2 separate regions of the Homo sapiens genome follow, and region 2 is linked to region 1. Evidence: fine-mapped QTL for protein levels in blood plasma. A gene starts in region 1. The other region holds a variant in brackets. All regions are shown on one strand. Distances are from middle to middle.

Region 1 (2,903 bases):
CTAGGTGATTCAGCACTCTGCCCACTCTTGGCCCAGCCCATGGGCCACACTCATGACAGCTCCAGATGCCAAAGTGCTGACTTGGAGGCTGAAGCAGAATCTTTTCTAAAATCCAAAATTATCCAGCCCTCCAGCAGGGCTCCTCATCCAGGCCTTTACATCAGGGCTCAGGCCAAGCCCCAGGAGGAGTCTGCTCAGTCATTCCCCTGGACCCTGCCCCTTCCCCATCCTAGTTTCCCAATGCCTAGCACCCCCTCCCCCAATCCATCTAGGAAACAAACCTGAACAGCTAGAGGAGTAGAGTGGCTGCATGGCTGGAGAGGAACATAAGAGAGAGGCCTACTAACCCCCAGCATTCTTCCCCAAGCCACAAATAGGATCGAACATGCAGAAAGGGGTTATATTCCACAACCAAGATCCCCACCCAGGGAAGGGGGGTCCAGAGGCCACTGAGGGAGGGCTGGGTACAGGCTGTATGGCTCCACACAGCACCAGGAAGGGCAGCTAGGGAAGGTGACGGGTGTCAGGCCAGCTAACAGCCAAAGGGGGGAGAAGGCGGGGTTCTTGAGAGGGACTGTGATGCAGGAGGACACCAAGAGGCAGCTGGGAAGGGGCTGGGACAGGGCGTGCAAGGGGGAACCAGGGGAGGACAGAAACTGAGGGAGCAAATGGAGAGACAGGACACCAACTGGTAGGGGCATGAGATGGGGAAGAGAATAGGGGAGGCAAGAAGGGGCTGATGTGTGCGGTAGGAAATACAGGAGGCATGGGGTCATCCAAAGTGGGGTGTCGAGGTAAACAGAAGTACAAGGGCAGGCAGGGCTCACGGATGAGGCGGGGACAGAGAGGAAAGGGAAAGGGTTGAGGATGCGGGAAGGGGGAGGGGACGCGGCCAACGAGATAGAAAGGGTGTTGGGGTGGGCAGGGGGCTGGGAGCTGGACGGGGACGGGGTGGGCATACGAACAGAATCGGATGGATTCGGGGCAGGTGACAGTGTGGAGAGGGGAAGGGATGGGAATGTGGACGGAGGGGGAGGGGGCAGGTCAGGGGATGGAGACAGACGAGGGCGGGAACAAGGGGGTGTCGCTAGGTGGGTTTCCATGACTCTCTACCCCCATCTCTCCGGTGTTCGCGCTCGCCTACCTCCAAGGGCTCGGGCTCCGGCCCTGGGCGCTGTCCGAGCTGTCCGCTGCCGGCGCCGCCACTTCCCCCGCGTCCCCTGCAGCGCCTCTCGCCGCCAGCCGCCGCATTAGGGCAGAGACCAGCCCGTGCGCGTCCCCGGGCGGCCGGCGCGCCCCCGACACCCTGCGTGCGCGCCCCCGCGCCCCTCCCTTCGCGCTCCTAGCGGCCGCTGAGCGGGGACCAGGACAGAGGCGGAGGGAAGGATGCTCCGGACGCAGCCCCGCCTGGCGCGCTGGGGAGCGGTGCGCAGAGCCAGGGCCGGAAAAAAAAATCCTCCTTTCTCTTTTCACCTGAGGCCTCTTTGCGGGCTTGCCTGGAGAGTGATAACTAGTCTCCCCGTTTCCGTTCGCTGAGCACCTACTACGTGCAAAGCACACAGGAGGAAGTACCCTGAAGCCCCAACAGGATCGCTTGTTTGCACCTCCACCATAGACTGTGACTTTAGGGAGCAGGAAGTTGCCGGACAGCTTGTGTTCTCAGGGCCTAGCACAGAGACTTGTTTGTGGTAAACTCTCCAGCAACATTTGTTGATTGGCAAGTCGTTGGATCCTGATTCAGGGATGTGAGAGAGGTTGTGACTGCTATGAACAGTGCGGGGCTTTCTTTTAGAAATGGGAGATTTCCTCTGCCCTAGGGGGACTCAGGCCTCAGTCGTGGCTGGAGAACTATCTGACATGATAGCAAGACATTTATCTGTGGACATCAGTTTCCACAACTGAACCATGAAAAGTTGATTGGGTGGTCGCCCAAGGTCTCTTCTAGCTCTGACACGAAGACTGCATTAGGTTCTGTGCACAGGATCTGAGCTCAGAATTATCACCTGAAACAGTGGAAAGATCCCAGTTAGGGAATCATAGAATCTTTGTCTTGGAAGAGCACTTGGAAGCTTCTAGTTCAGCTCCTCATCCAAAACTACAGTCCCCTGCAGCATCCCTCTGTGGCCCCATTCAAGGGCTACTTTCTCTGTGCTCATAGCTCCTACCCTGGCACCACTGTCTTTTATTCTGGATGAGAACACCAAAGTTCAAGGAACCTGCCCAAGTAATAATTCAAAGCCCAGATGCATCTGACAGTGCCTAGTTAAAACTACTTTGCTATTTTAAGATGGGCCCTACAAGTTTTAGATTTCACCAATACTAGAATCTTCTAATATGGTCAAGTTGAAGGATCACAGGATTTGCCAAGAAAGTCCTGGCTTACCAGCAGGGTAAACTTGGGCAGTTCACTTAACCTCTCTAAGTCTTCTTTTTCCCATCTGTAAAATGGGCATAGAGTGAGCATCAATGAGATAAGGTACTGAACCAAACTGTTCTTTACAAATGTTAATTATTGTTCAGCCTTCCCTCCCCTTTCTTCATTACTTTTAAACAGCAAATACACGAAGGTCTAGAGAGATGGACCCCACACAGTGGTTTGGTGGTTGAAACTGAACTGGGACTCAAGTTTCATGGCCTTAGTATAAAGAAATTAAGTGTGGGCCTAAAGGGAGCATGGTGACCCCCAGAGGCCCTGAGGGTGAAGGTGTTTCCTTGGCCTCGGTGGTGTCCCAGAGCTGCAGGCAAGTCCTGATGGAGGGAGAGGCACCCCCTGCTGGTGATGGACTCTGGGGACTAAGAAGAGCCTACGCACCTTGCAGGCTGTTCTGCTGCTGTGTCAGGAACAGACTCACTCAGGACCGAGGGCAGAAAGTGGTTGCTCTTTTTCTTTCCTGACATTTATC
Region 2 (2,903 bases), 150 kb before region 1:
CCCTTCCTCACCCTGCTCCGTCTCCTGGGGGGCTGCCCTCGCTGGACCTTATCAGCGGGGTTCCCTTGTTCTCAGGCTTCCAGATGGGTTTAACCAATAGCAGGTGCCAACAGGAGGCCCCAGGGCAGGAGAAGAGGAAGGGTGGGTATCAATTCCCCTGGGTTCCTCTTTGCTGGGCTACAGGTTGACAGCCTTGTACTCTTCTACCTAAGGCCATGGCTCCTAAGGGCGGTCCTTGCTTGCTGTGGACTCATCTATCCCCGTCCATGGAGGCTCAGAGTGGCATAATGGCTTCCTGCTGCTGCCAGCCTTTAAGGTGGATCACGTATCTTGCCGTTTTCCCTCCAACTCTCTCCACACGTTATAAATAGTTCCTTTTGAGAATGCATCTGTTTCCTGGCAGGAAACATTACCCACAGGTTGAAGATGCCCTAATCTAGTTCAGGAAGTGATTCTGACCCTGCGACTACCTGGAAAGGGAAGGCCCCTCCCTCCCCCATAACTGATTCTTGTCCCTGTTTTCTCCACTCTGCCGCAAAAGCAGCTCTGCCTCGTCCCTTCTAATCCATCAGAGCGTGGGCCGCAGGGTAGAAGCGTGCAATGGAAACTGTGGGCTGGTCCATAAAATCCATGACCAGATGCCACCCTTTCTGCACTTACCATCCAGTGGTCCCATCGGGCTCCTGTCTGAAGTGCCCACCACCATGGAGGTGAGGAGTGGGATGGACAGAGGACCTGCTGACCCTCTCTGCTCATCTCCCTTGTGAGTCCAATCCATAATCACCTCTGGGAAAGTGGGGCCCAGGGCCCAGCCCTCCCTTCCTCCATCTCACTGTTAGGAATGCCACTGGCCGTACTCTTGACTGCTCCTTCTAAGTTCCCCCACTCAAGACTGTCCCTCCTCCCTTCCTTCTGCCCACTCCATCCACCTACATGATCACTTCTCCGATCAGACCCAGACTCAACAGGGCGCAAAGGCCCTCAACCAGGAGGGGACTCCCCGACACCCCTGCTTTGTTTAGCAGCCTACAGGATTGATGTGCTGGGGACAGAGAGGCCACCACCGTCTGGGAAGCCAGGCATATATGTCCATGTATATGACCAGAATCTTGTTGTTTTACCAGGGGCCAGCCCCCAAAGACCTTCTCTTTCTGTGCTCAGTTCCCAGGGCTGGGAGCCGCAGCGGGAGCACCAGGAGGGGCTGGTCTGGGGTGCTCCTGTCTGGTTGCTGAGGAGGCCTCCTGATCCCTCAAGGCTTCCCCGGGGGAACCTCTGGCCAGCTGCCCTGCTTCCTACAGAAGTGTCTAATTATAGCTCTTTAGGATGGGTAGTCCTGATGTTTTTTCTTGGTACTAGTATGGCTTAGCAGTAAGGCAGACTGCCAGGGGATCGGAAGACCTGGGCTCTGTTCTCAAGACTGACATTGATGACTATGGAACACTGCCGAGGGTTTTCCCTTTTTGGGCCTCAGTTTTCACATCTGTGAAATGAGAATTCTGGACTGGGTGATGACATTCAGTAATTCCAACTACGTTCGGATGATATTTCCACTCCTGACATTACTGGGTGCCTGTCTGCTCTAGGTCACTACAGAACATTTTTCCTTCCTGGGAACTGGCTGTCCTCCCATACCCACCCCAAGGTTCCTGGCCTGTGAGCGTGGCCTCGTGCGACCTAGCCACA[AG/G]GGTCCTGATGGGGGGACGGGGAGGAGACTACTCACAATCTTCTCCGGAGTAACCGATGACGGACTCTGGCTCAGGGCCCTTCCCGAAGTCATTTTCAGCCTGGACTCGGATCTCATAGGGCACGTAGACTGGGGTCTGCCCCACCACGTAGCGAGAGCCCCACACTGTGACGTTGTTCCAGGCCTCTCGAGTCTCTCTCCGCCTCCACTTGACAATGTAGCGCAGGTTGGGGCCAAAGGCCGAGGTGGCATTCATGGGCTGGGCAGAGGGACAGACAGGCTGGAGAGGCTGCCAGAGAGGGGCCCAGATCCACCCACAGCTTGCCCTCTCTTGCTGTGCCAGGCATCCCTTCCAGATGTGCCCAACACTGGCCTGCCCCCTTGCAGGGTAGGGAAGACCATATCCCCCACCCCAGTGAGTCCCCCAAAAGCCCAAGGTCCTGTGAACCCAGCAGCATGCAGATTTTCTGTGACACAGGCTTCGCCTGAGACCCAGTTACTCTGACTCTGAGAGCCACCCGCATTTGTAGGTGCAAAGGTTTTATTTTCAACAAAACTCCTTCCTGTGACAGGAGCAACCAATAAAGCAAAATATAGACAAAAGGTAAACTTCTCCAAAGTCAGAAGAAATGAGTTGTGGTTAACCACAGCATGGCTCCTGCTAATGAACTCAAAATTCCAGAATGGACTTTAGTTCTACCGAATTTGTGTGTGTCTGTCCTGTCCTTCCCAAGAGGTCAGAGTTCTTTAAACATGGGTGTGATTCTGCTCTTTATTTTCTAAGGGCCTGGCCCAGGAATCAGTCCTCTTGGAGCCTGCTATACAGAGCCACAGACCAGGGTCCTGAATCTGGGCTCAGCCCAGCTGCCGTTGCCCTGTTTGGCCAAGGCTGCTGTGGGAGCAGCCTTCAGAAAGACAGGGAAGGTCATGATCCCAAACACTGCATCTCCCAGTTTCCATTACTCATGGCAGAAGCTCAGAAATGTTAATATTTCAGTGGCTGCGTTTGCATTCTCAGACTGGGAAGTGGTTTGGGAAAAAAGTCATTTTGAGACCACATACTCCAGTTTTGGTTTGGAAAATGTAGTCAGTGAGCCAGCATGAAGATGGGATTTTCTAAGACCAGAGGGAGTCTTTGGAATGACCTAGTCCATTCTTGGACCAAAAGAAAGCCTGTACTGGACACATCTCAGATGTTGGTCTCTCCCCAGCTCCCACA

Direction of the effects. Positions count from the first base shown, and alleles are read on the strand shown. Strength reflects both the effect of a copy and how common the allele is.
In carriers of allele G in region 2, the plasma level of the protein whose gene starts at base 1,275 in region 1 tends to be higher than with AG alone (strong association).

What was found. PIP is the chance, under the fine-mapping model, that this variant and not a neighbour inherited with it causes the effect. The UK Biobank Pharma Proteomics Project read protein levels with antibody pairs (Olink). The fine-mapping took linkage between variants from a reference panel, not from the people measured, so its PIPs are less certain.
Region 2: its variant is fine-mapped to the plasma level of the NFASC protein (UK Biobank, PIP 0.99).

The regions. Positions count from the first base shown.
Region 1 is chr1:204,827,024-204,829,926 of GRCh38, reverse strand. It overlaps NFASC (neurofascin), which reads right to left and starts at 1,275. Exons shown (of 30, transcript NM_001005388.3): 1 at 1,145-1,275.
Region 2 is chr1:204,980,838-204,983,740 of GRCh38, reverse strand. NFASC (neurofascin) reads right to left here. Exons shown (of 30, transcript NM_001005388.3): 21 at 1,721-1,943. Among named protein-coding and RNA genes, the nearest start is that of CNTN2, 61 kb to the left of the region's middle. The variant AG/G (reference allele first, on the strand shown) is at 1,684.